Regions from separate parts of the Homo sapiens genome. Here region 2 is linked to region 1. Evidence: fine-mapped expression QTL. A gene starts in region 1. The other region holds a variant in brackets. All regions are shown on one strand. Distances are between the middles of the regions.

Evidence for each region. PIP is the estimated chance that this variant, and not a neighbour inherited with it, causes the effect.
Region 2: its variant is the best candidate, but not a certain one, in a credible set for the expression of LEF1-AS1 in whole blood (TOPMed, PIP 0.79).

The regions. Positions count from the first base shown.
Region 1 is chr4:108,165,098-108,170,471 of GRCh38, forward strand. It overlaps LEF1-AS1 (LEF1 antisense RNA 1), which reads left to right and starts at 2,428. Exons shown (of 3, transcript NR_029374.1): 1 at 2,428-2,736. LEF1 (lymphoid enhancer binding factor 1) reads right to left here and starts at 3,835. Exons shown (of 12, transcript NM_016269.5): 1 at 2,458-3,835; 2 at 1-66. The coding sequence starts at 2,670. It overlaps LOC124900752, which reads left to right and starts at 2,842. Exons shown (of 2, transcript XM_047416528.1): 1 at 2,842-3,805; 2 at 4,013-5,374. The coding sequence starts at 3,403. The coding sequence ends at 4,599. RefSeq lists silencers at 1,789-2,028, 3,785-3,834 and enhancers at 1,906-2,407, 3,435-3,524.
Region 2 is chr4:108,235,666-108,241,039 of GRCh38, forward strand. No RefSeq gene overlaps it. Among named protein-coding and RNA genes, the nearest start is that of LEF1, 69 kb to the left of the region's middle. The variant G/A (reference allele first, on the strand shown) is at 2,400.

The sequences.
Region 1 (5,374 bases):
GTCATCGGGGTGTTCTCTGGCCTTGTCGTGGTAGGGCTCCTGAGAGGTTTGTGCTTGTCTGGCCACCTAACATCATGAATCCCCACACCCAAAAGAAAGAAAATCACCTTAGAGTTTGTGACAATAATGGTACAAATGTGTGTGCGCTGGTAATTCAAAGGAAGAGGTTTAGGGGCAACTCTGTTTTATACTCTGAGAGACATACGCTAGTGTTTAGTACTGCATAATCCTTTTCTTGTCAACATGTATTTTTGAGTGATTATTATCCACCCGGGACCAAAAACGTATAAATAATAACAAAACCAATAAAAATATAGTTAAATTTGGGAATGATCCACATGCTGTTCTGACTGCTGTTTATTAAACCATATCAAGGCTCCTTGGATGCCTAATATTACAGGAGTAGGAGTTAATGGGGTTGATGGTTTCGATAGCCTCTTCAACCACTGTTCACTTCAATCAGATCTGATTAAAAGAAGGCTGAAATATCATTTTGCAACTGAAAATGGCATTTAAACATAAACAAGCCAACCACTCAGATGCGGTCTTAAGGCAACTGCCCTGAGCGCAGTTACAGCAGAAGCTCCACTCGAGCTTATAACCTACTATGGCTGGCTGAGTGCAGGCTTACAAAAGTAGAACGATTCTGTGGTTAAAGGGAGGAAAATTAGAGAGTCAGGTTATAGACATCTAAAAGGTAGCCCAGTTGATATCAGTTTTGGTAATCACCATCCACCCAGACAGCCTCAAACACGTGCAAATCAGTGGTATTACTCCTTCACCCTCAGGCCTCCTCATGCCCACTTAACACCCGAGTGCTCTCGGATTCGAACGCAGTGTCCTTCACCCGGACCAGAAAATTGTGGAGAATATGAAGTGGGTGGCAAAATTATTTATGGACTAAGGCAGGACTAGCAAAATGGGTAGAAAGAGAGGCTGCTCTACAAATAGGAGAGTTTGGCAAAAAGCCTGTGTTTTGGATGTTATTCGGTTCTCTGGACGTGTGTCCTCCCTTTGACCTCCTTTTCCCAGCACACAGTAGTCACAAATCTTTTACGCGGGGTTAGGTGCACCCTACCCCCGCCCCCAGCCCGCTCAAACTGGATTCAACGGGTAAAGAACACCATTCTGTTCTCTGAACGCAGGCCCCCAGCCTTTCAAAATTCGTACTCACCTCTGCCATTGGGATAGAGAAGGCAGATCTGAGGTGTTCTTAAACGCGCTGTTTAAAACCCAAAATGTCCCCGCCCTCAAAACCACACACTTTCTTTTTGGGGGTAGAAAGATGCCATTTAAGGAAAAAAAGGTATATCCTCCAAGTTTCTTTGGAGGGAAAAGGCGTTGGTTAAATCATTCGGGTGTCAGGACTTTTCTACCGGATTTCCTCCAGAGGGTTTCCCAGTTGTGGAACAAGGGTGACCAGTGGAGTGTCGGGTATCAGGGTCCATCCGCCCCCTAGACCAGCTCTGGACTAGGCTTCAAACAGCCCTCCAGCGCGGCCCTGCTCCGCGCTTTCTCTAGCCAGCACCCACGTGTCTCTATTTACTCTACTCAGGTTACCAGCTCTATCGCCCGCAGCGGGCCAGAAGACCCGATAAAGCGCCTTCCACCCTGCAGGACTAGTGCCCGGCTTCCGCTGCTTCTCCGCCTTTCTTCTGCGTAGATTTAAGGCCTGATCCGGTCCCAAACCCCAAATAAAAGTTGTGGGTTTGTTTCCAAGTGATGGCGGTTGGAGAAAACTAGAGTTGGGGGCGGTACAGCCAGGGTGTACCCTTGCGGTGGGTCGGCTCGGCGCACCCACAGCTCCCAGCTGCTAGCCCAGGCGCTGGGGCCGCAGGGACTGAACCCCGCACCGCCCCCGCAGCCCGGGTGCGCGCCCCATCGGCCGGCCTGCTCCCCGCGGCCCGGCTCACCGGTGGTAGGGACGGCCCCGCCTGCCCCAGCCCACGCCCGCCTCCCCTTCCTCCCGCCTGTGGCTCTGCTCGTCTCCACCTAAGCCTTTGGTGGTTTAACGCACTTTTGCAGAGACATCTACCAAGAGATAGCGTGTGCACTTTGTTTTCCGTCCCACGGAAGAATTTATCAGTAGCGTTATTCAGCCCTACTCGCTTTAAAGCACGGCACCCCTCAGCCCAACAAAAAGACCGAAGGCGAAACATTGTGGGTTCCTGCCCGCGAACCAACCGTTCAGCCACCGAACCCCCTAAACTGATCCATTTGGAATAAGTTACCCTGCCCCTCTACCTCCCATCCTACACACACACACACACACACACACACACACACACACACACACACTGCGGACCGGGGGCCCAGCTACGCACACACCCCAAAACAAACGAGGGATCTACTCGGGACCCTCAGCCGGGCGGCCGGGCGCCTTCGTTCCCTTCCTCCCTCTCTGAGTTTCCCAGGGACCCGCCACGCCTCTCGGAACTGGGGCAGCGGCCCGCTCACCTCGTGTCCGTTGCTGGCCGGGATGATTTCAGACTCGTTCACCAAGGAAGACTTGATGTCAGCTAAATCGCCTTCCTCTTCGGGATGACTGATCTCGGCGAAGATCTTTTCCTTCTGAGGATCGCCCTCGTCCTTGAAGGGGATCATCTCGTCCGTGGCGCAGAGTTCCGGGTCCCCCCCGCCGCCGCCACCTCCTCCGGAGAGTTGGGGCATCCCGGCGGCTCTGTAATCTCCGCTCCGCTGTGGGAGCACCCGCGCAACAGCAGGAAAGACAGAGGGGTAACTCAAGGGTGGGGGAGGAAAGGAGAGTTGGAAGGGTTCGTGCAGCAGGACAGCGGGCGGAAGCGGGGCGGGCGAGCGCGGGGCCGCCGGCCGGCAGCCGGAGCAGCTGCCGCGGCGCCCGAATCCCGGCGGCCGCCGCGCTTTCCCGCTTCGCGGAGACCGACGCAGGCGCCCGCCCCCGAGGCCGAAGGGCACTGGGCGGCGAGGGCTGCGGTAGCTGGCGACTCCGGGGGCGTCTGCGCGGCGCGCGCTAGACGAGGCTGCCCCGGCGGCCACCCCGCGACCCCGCGTCGCCGGGATTTGCGCGCGGAGAACGCCGGTTCTGGAGGGAGCACGCCTCCCCAAAGTGCAGAGGAGGGTCCGGCGGCGCGTCTCCGCGGAAACCCTCTCCACTGTAGTTACCCCGGATGCCGACTTAGTAGTTTGTTTTCCGAGAAAAGAGAGGGGATCTGGGCAGAAGGGCCCCGTTTGCCCCAAAAGAAGGTGCAAGGATCAGAAGATAACGAAACGTCCACTTCCTGAAGGGTGGGAAAAAAAGAAAAAGAAAAAGGAGCCACCCACGCTGGAGATGTCCGTTTTAGATCTTCTTATTTTCTTCCCTTTCGCTTCGGTTTTTCTTCTCGAGGCTCATTTAATCTGCTAGAGAAGGAGGAGGAGCAGAAGATGGGGGCCGAGGAGGAGGGGAAGAGAAAGAGAAGTTTGCCAAGAATAAAGTTTTTGCCGGCAAGCGCGGGGACTCCGCAGTGGAGGGCACTGCGGAGTCTCGGGGAGTCACAGCGGGGGCCTCGGGCCCAAATGCCTCTGCCCGGAGCTCGAGCCGACACACACACTCAGTCCGACCCCTCTTTGTTCCCGGCTCGAGTTTCTCAGCCTGGCTCGCCGGCTCGCCGCTCTGCACGCCTCCGCCGGCCAGCTCTGTCAAAGCAAAGAGCTGCGCCCCTTGAGTTCGCCCGGCCGAGGGGAGGGGACGCCCCGAGCTTGGCCGCGTGCGAGGCTCCGGGCGCGTCCTGGTTCCTCGGCCCGAGAGCGCGCAGCCCGGGTCCCTCCTCCGCGCCCTGCCCCGCAGGTGAGCGGCTGCGCCTCCCCACTGCTTCTCCTCCTCCCGCGCCTCGCCGGCGCTGAAAAGCTACCCACTTGCGTCGCTTCTCCTCCCTCTCCCCTCCCCCGCCTCTAGCTCTCCTTGGCTGCCCGCTGGAGGGGAGGCGGGGGGTGAGGGGGAGTCGGCGAGAAGGAGGTGGTGATTGAGGGCTTTTTTTTCTTTTTCTTTTCCCAGATCCTGTAGGACGAGTCTTGGTTTTGGGGTGTGTGAGTGTGGTGTGTGCGCGCGCGCCTGGAGGGAAGGATCAGGCAACTTGGCGAGAGAAGGAAGGACCGGGCGCTGCTTATAACCCACCGAAAGGCACGCTTTGCCCGCGTGAAACTGACAAGAAACATTGCCGCAGTGGCTTGACTTCATCATCTAAGTATCTATTTACTTGGCCCCCACCCACCCACTCCTTTTCCTCTGCCAGTCTCTCCCCTACCTCCTTGACGCCTCCCACTCTCCCTCCCTGGCTCTGGCAGAGGGAGGAAGATGAAAGAGAAAGCCGCTGCCGCTGTGATGGACACCACATTGATAGATGCTCTGACAGTGGGGAGAGGCGGGAATCTGGGACTGAGAAAAAAAGGAAAAGGGGAAAATATAACAGACATTGCTCAACTATTAAGAGAGAACAGAAGGACAAGGAAAAGAGAGTTGTAGCTTTCCCGAATATAATATCACACACACGCTCTTTGGAGACAAGGGAACACACTAGTGAAAATAAAATCTCTAGGCTTACGGAGAAAAAATATGACGAGGAAGAAGGAACTGAAGACTAGATTTTAATTATTGCTTTTTAAACAATATATCTTTCATTCTGTTCTCACCACGGGATGTACGGAGAGTTGTGCTAGGTCTCCAGTGGGTTTTCAGAGACACACACCGCAGTGTGTGGGAACCTCATCGAGAATGAAAAGATAATCCAAGAAGGGGGAAGAGAAGGCAAAAGGACTCAGGAGAGCAAAGCCAGAAGAGGGAGGGAGGACGGGGTAGTCCCTGGCACCTTGGACTGCGAACTGAAAGGGACCCTTGAAGACACCAATCCGAATACAACCTCAAAAATTCCCCAGTCTCCACTGTCTCTTTGATGAATTTTGTACAAAGACAGGAGTTTTCAGGAGATACTTTGTGAAAGTTACAGCAGAAGGGAAGCTGAAGTTTGAAAACACATTACATTTTGTCCCTTGGTTCTCAAACCCCCTCAGTTAAAAATCTAGGCAAAATTATTATATCCAATACAGTAACCATCTGTAAAACTTCAGAACAGTAAACAAAGGACATAAAGAAATGTATCTTCATCTCCCTTAAATCGAAAACAAGCAAAACACTACAGAATCAGATTTTGCTCCATTATATAGGAATTGTCTGGCAAAGATCCCTCTTTTTTTCCTAAAGGTGAAATTTCAGGCTGCTGAACATTGAATGGGTAAAGATTTTTACAATGCTGTATCTAAGTGAGCACTAATGACTTCACCTACTAATAACGACTACTTCTTGGGAATAAGAATTTACTAGGAAGCAATTTTTAAAACTTTACAAAGGATCCAATTGGTC
Region 2 (5,374 bases), 71 kb after region 1:
GAGATGCCTTGGATTGGAGCAAGGCAAGAGGGTCCGTCTGGCTTCTCCAAGACACTAACCCTTGATGCCATGAACTGAGCATTGAGCCTTGCTGTTACATCCAATTGCTGTGCTGCTCCATGTTTCCTACATCTGTAATGAAATCCAGGGCCACCACCTGGCTCTTCCACATTTCCATAATTTTGTACACCACACTTTCTTTAACTTAAACTTCCTCCCCTTCCCCACAACCTGGCTGCTATTATTCCTTCAGCTTTTCGCTCAGATGCAGTCTCCCATGGGAAGCTGTCCTGGCTGACCTTCTAAGTCTTGGCTAGTACCTGTTTTTACATCAATTGGAGCAGGAGTCCCACTGTTTAGTTCCTATTTGTTTACTGATCTGTCTCATCCTTTACAGTATAGTTGTTTGAAGGCAGGCTTGCACCCAGCTGTGGCCTGATATACAGTCAATAAATACTTCCCAATAAATACTTCCTGAATCATTTAGGTAATGATCAAATGAGCAGGGATACCTCTTGTCTGAGAGAATCATGAAGTGGAAGAAGAGGTGTGAATATAGAGCTGATTGGAGAAGTCAGGACCGAAGGGGAAGTTGTACTTGCTCACAGACACCTGTTATCTCAGGGAAGGGGGAGGTTAGGCCACCTGCTGAGAGTGAGGGAAGCAGGGAGCTGGGAGGACCCTTGAGGAAAGTAGTAAAGGTTTGGAACAGCTTGTATGGAGAATGGAAATGGAGCAGATGAGAAACCCTTGAGGGCCCAGCTGAGATTGGAGCTCATAAATTTATAATGGAGCCCAGCAACATGAATATGCAATTTTCTCCAGAAAGCAGTCCTGAACAAGATGTAGGAAAAATAATGCTAATTGCTATTTATTCATGCCTGCTATATGCAAGGATCTATGCTACATGCTTCAGTTGCCTGTTCTATATTCTTTGCAAGAAGCCTGTGATGAAGGTGTCATTATCTCCCTCATTTGGATGAAGAAACTGAGGCTTATGGAGGTTAATCACTTAATATAAGTCACATAGCTGGCAAGTGACAGAAGCAGCTACAAACCACAGACTGACTCCAAGGGCCAGGACTTTGTTTGGGGCCATGCCATTCCACTGCAGCTTCTGTGGGTCCAGCTTGGTTGACCTGAGCTAGGGATGGTTATGGTGAAGGCAGTGAGATGACAAAGGAGGCCAGAAAGAAGCCTACTGGCTAGAGTGTTGATAGAGTGATTAACTACTAATAACTTTGGGCTCTAAGTGAGCTGGTGTCTGAACCCAGGTATGTGTGGAGACATCCAAGTGATGAGGAACTAAAGGTGTCAGTGCTATGAAAGGATAGGTTTATAAAGAGCAAAGGAAAAGAAGAGAATCACAGATAGGAAGATGTAGTTTGCATTTATGAGTTCAGAATGGCCCAATTCCAGGTGGTAATAAAGCTAAGATGTGCTCATGAGAATGGACGTGAACAAACCACAATAAAGGAGGGCATGGAACTCCGAGGTCCTTCTGTATTGTTTCTTGAAATGTTAGTGCCTGGTGTATTTTAGATGCTCAGTATTTACTGAATGAATAAATAAATAAAAGGGTAACCACAAATAGAAACTATAAAGTAGTGAGACTTCTTCAGTTATGTGATTTGTGAACATTTAGTGCTATTTTTATAATCTCATCTAACCCACTATCTAATAAAATAGATGAAGAGAGAAAAAAAGGTGGCCATCTAAATTGAAGACAAAGTGCTCCCTTGAAGTAATTATCTGATTGTGGAAGCCTGAGTTACAGAGACTCGAACATTTGGAAGCCTTTTTAATTGGAAGAGAAAACAAAGTTCAGTGAAAACAGAGTTACTGTTGTTATGGCCAAGCAGTGATAAAATTTAGGATGGCAGTCTTCTGTATACTGAGTTGTTTGTTCATATGCCGTATATGAGCTAAAACCTTTAGGGTCCTTCAGCAAAGATAATATGAATGTTCTATGTTTTCTGTGTGTTATATCAGGGACCCAGGCTCAGTCAACACGTTCATAGTTTGAAACCTTAATCAAGGCATGGAATATCATTTAAGCTAAGTCACGATTATCCCTCACAAGTGAACTATAAAACAGAATCTTGATTCATGAATTAGTTCATTGTTTTGCCCTGCTGATGTTTGTTAGATATAACATATATGCATGCCAAGTGAAGAGAGATGAAATAGCATGATGTAATTTAGTTGTGTTTCAAAGAGTAAAGCCTCCAGGGTATTGGTAAACATACAGCTAAATAGAGGCTCACAATACACTTCTGTGTTTTATGGTTTTGTCAAAATCAAAGGAAATGTATTTACTTTGGAACAAATAATTGTGGGAAATTTCTATAGTGTCCCTGTGGCTTGTATTTCATTGCAAGTAGAATTCCCTTTGGTAT[G/A]TGAATGACATTGCATAAGTAAGCTGTGCTGGACAAAGGATAAGATGTATTCCAGCTTTAATTATGGTGTAGAGGAGTTTTACCTTAGGCTTCTGACTTTACTTGCCAGAAAATAGCCATGGAAAGGTGCATTATTGTTCCATAGTTAACAATTAAGTTTCTTAACTGAATATACTCTTGGTGAAACATAAAAGTAAGCAGAATTTCTCAACTGTGTATTCTTAGATTATTGAAACTAAGAGATAGTTCTGGCTATCTGTACTTTTCTACTTTCATGATCTTACAGTAGAGGGGATAGCCTCCATGTAACTTGGCTGTCTTTCTCTTGTGTTTTTTAGGTACTGGCAAATAGCATTCAGCCCTATTTCCTGCTTAATTATATGATGGTGAATAGTCACTGTAATGAGCTCCTTCTACCTTTTTTTTTTTTTTTTTATGGAGTCTCACTCTGTCACCCAGGCTGGAGTGCAGTGGCGTGATCTCAGCTCACTGCAACCTCTGCCTCCTGGGTTCAAGCTATTCTCCTGCCTCAGCCTCCCAAGTAGCTGGGGCTGCAGGCAGCTGCCACCACACCTGGCTAATTTTTTTTTGTATTCTTAGTAGAGACTGGGTTTCACTTTGTTGGCCAGGCTGGTCTGAAACTCCTGACCTCGTGATCTGCCCATCTTGGCCTCCCAAAGTGCTGGGATTACAGCCATGAGCCACCGCGCCCTGCCAATGAGCTCCTTCTACTTAAAAATGTACCCATAGGCTGGGCACAGTGGCTCGTGCCTGTAATCCCAGCACCTTGGGGGGCCGAGGCAGGTGGATCACCTGAGGTCAGGAGTTCAAAACCAGCCTGACCAACATGGTGAAACCCCATCTCTAGCTGGGCATGGGACGCATGCCTATAATCCCAGCTACTCGGGAGGCTGAGGCAGGAGAATCACTTGAACCTGGGAGGCAGAGGTTGCAGTGAGCTGAGCTGGCGCCATTGTACTCCAGCCTGGGCAACAAGAGCAAAACTCTATCTCAAAAAAAAAAAAAAAAAAAGAAAAGAAAAAAGAAGAAAGAAAGTACCCATAGAAGGAGCACTCTAAAATATAAAATCTATGAACCAAGGATTATGAGTATTAACACTCTCCAAATCATACCTTCTTCTCACCTTTTTTTCTAAAATAATTATACATCAATGCTTTTGAAATTTGTTTAAAGTGACAGAAAGACTCACTCTGTAGATGCTTTCAGATATCAACCTACGTAGCATGAGGCATAGAGAAGAAGGCAAAAATAAAAAAGTCCTTAGTTGTCTAAAACATGGGGATACCAGGCAAACAGCCCACACCCTCAGTGTTCTGAAGGTTCAGTTGATTCTTATATTATGATTGAATGTCATTATAATAATTATAAAGCATCCTATATTGTGAAACTGGCAAGCATGGGGTTAATTGATGATGACACTAAGATAGATATGTCAAGGCAGGAGTAATGATACACTTTGCAAGACAAGAATGCATTAGAGGTAATTGTCAGCAGAATCCTAGTGAAAGTGAGTCACAGTAAAGGCTTGGATGGAACCAGCTACATGTACAAACCTCCCTAAACTCACTAAAACAGAAAATTAATATTGAATTTTATTCTTAGTTAGAAGGATGTGTATCTTGGTCCTTGTTTGCAAGGGCTAGAGATGATCAACGTATTATATCTTCACGTTAGATATGTTTTTCCAAATTTTAATTATTTATTTTCCTGGCTTAGTGGAACTATTCGTTAAATTAACTCATTACCATTTGTATTAGTCCATTTTCACACTGCTGATAAAGACGTACCCAAGACTGGGCAATTTACAGAAGAAAGAGGTTTATTGGACTTACAGTTCCACATGGCTGAGGAGGCCTCACAATCATGGTGGAAGGCAAGAAGAAGCAAGTCACATCTTACGAGGATGGCAACAGGCAAAGAGAGAGGAGAGAAACTCCTGTTTTTAAAACCATCCAGTCTCATGAGTCCCATTCACTATCACGAGAACAGCACAGGAAAGACCCACCCCCATGATTCAATCATCTTCCACTGAGTCCCTCCCACAACACATGGGAATAATGAGAGTTACAAGATGAGATTTGGGTGGGGACACAGAGCCAAACCATGTTACCATTCCTGGGAACTACCTTAACAAGTAAAAGAGTACTGTGTTACTCATTATAAATCAAGATAGTTATATAAATCATCATATATTGTCGTTATGCTCTAGGGTATTGGAGGGAAGAGGAAAAAGAGCCATATGATTTGTAATTTACATCCTGGAGTTTCTTCCTCTTTCAGAAAAATAATTAAGAACACTTTTTTCCTTTTAAAATCAACAACACAGCACTGTGAGAATTGGGTGTTGGTTAATTCTTGTAAGAATTCCACTGACAAGGCCTAACTCTGTTCTATTTCAACCTTGGTTTCAAGTGATCCTTCTAGTATCCTGTATTTTCCTCAGTGGTCATGCTAAAGCACTGTTACTAGACCACAAGGCTGGAAGCCAGATTGCAAAACCATGAGGCAGGAGTGGGTGGTCAGGAAGTAGAATTCAGCAGAGTAGATTTCTTTTAAGAAGTTGGCAGTGAAGAGAAGAAGAGAGAATGCATGATAGCTTAAGGAGTAGTATGATGAAGAGAGTGCTCTTCTAGGATAGGAAGGGAGGTTTGAGCTTGCTTATTGGCTGAGAGGGAAGACTCAGTGGAGAAGGAGAAAGGGAACAGTCCTGTGGACTGATAGCTGATAGGGATGCTCAAGGGGAATGGGATGGATAAGGTATGGAAAGCGGGAACCATTCTCTGTGCTGGGAAGGAAAGAAGAGAAATGGACAAAAATTTAAAGATATTTTGAGGAGAAACTGGGGAAGTTGAAAGAGCTATATCTTGACCTGAGGCAAGGTGGTAGGAGGATTTGAAGAAAGGGAATTATGTAGAATTGGCTTTGTAGGGAATGTGACTGAGAATTATTGAGTT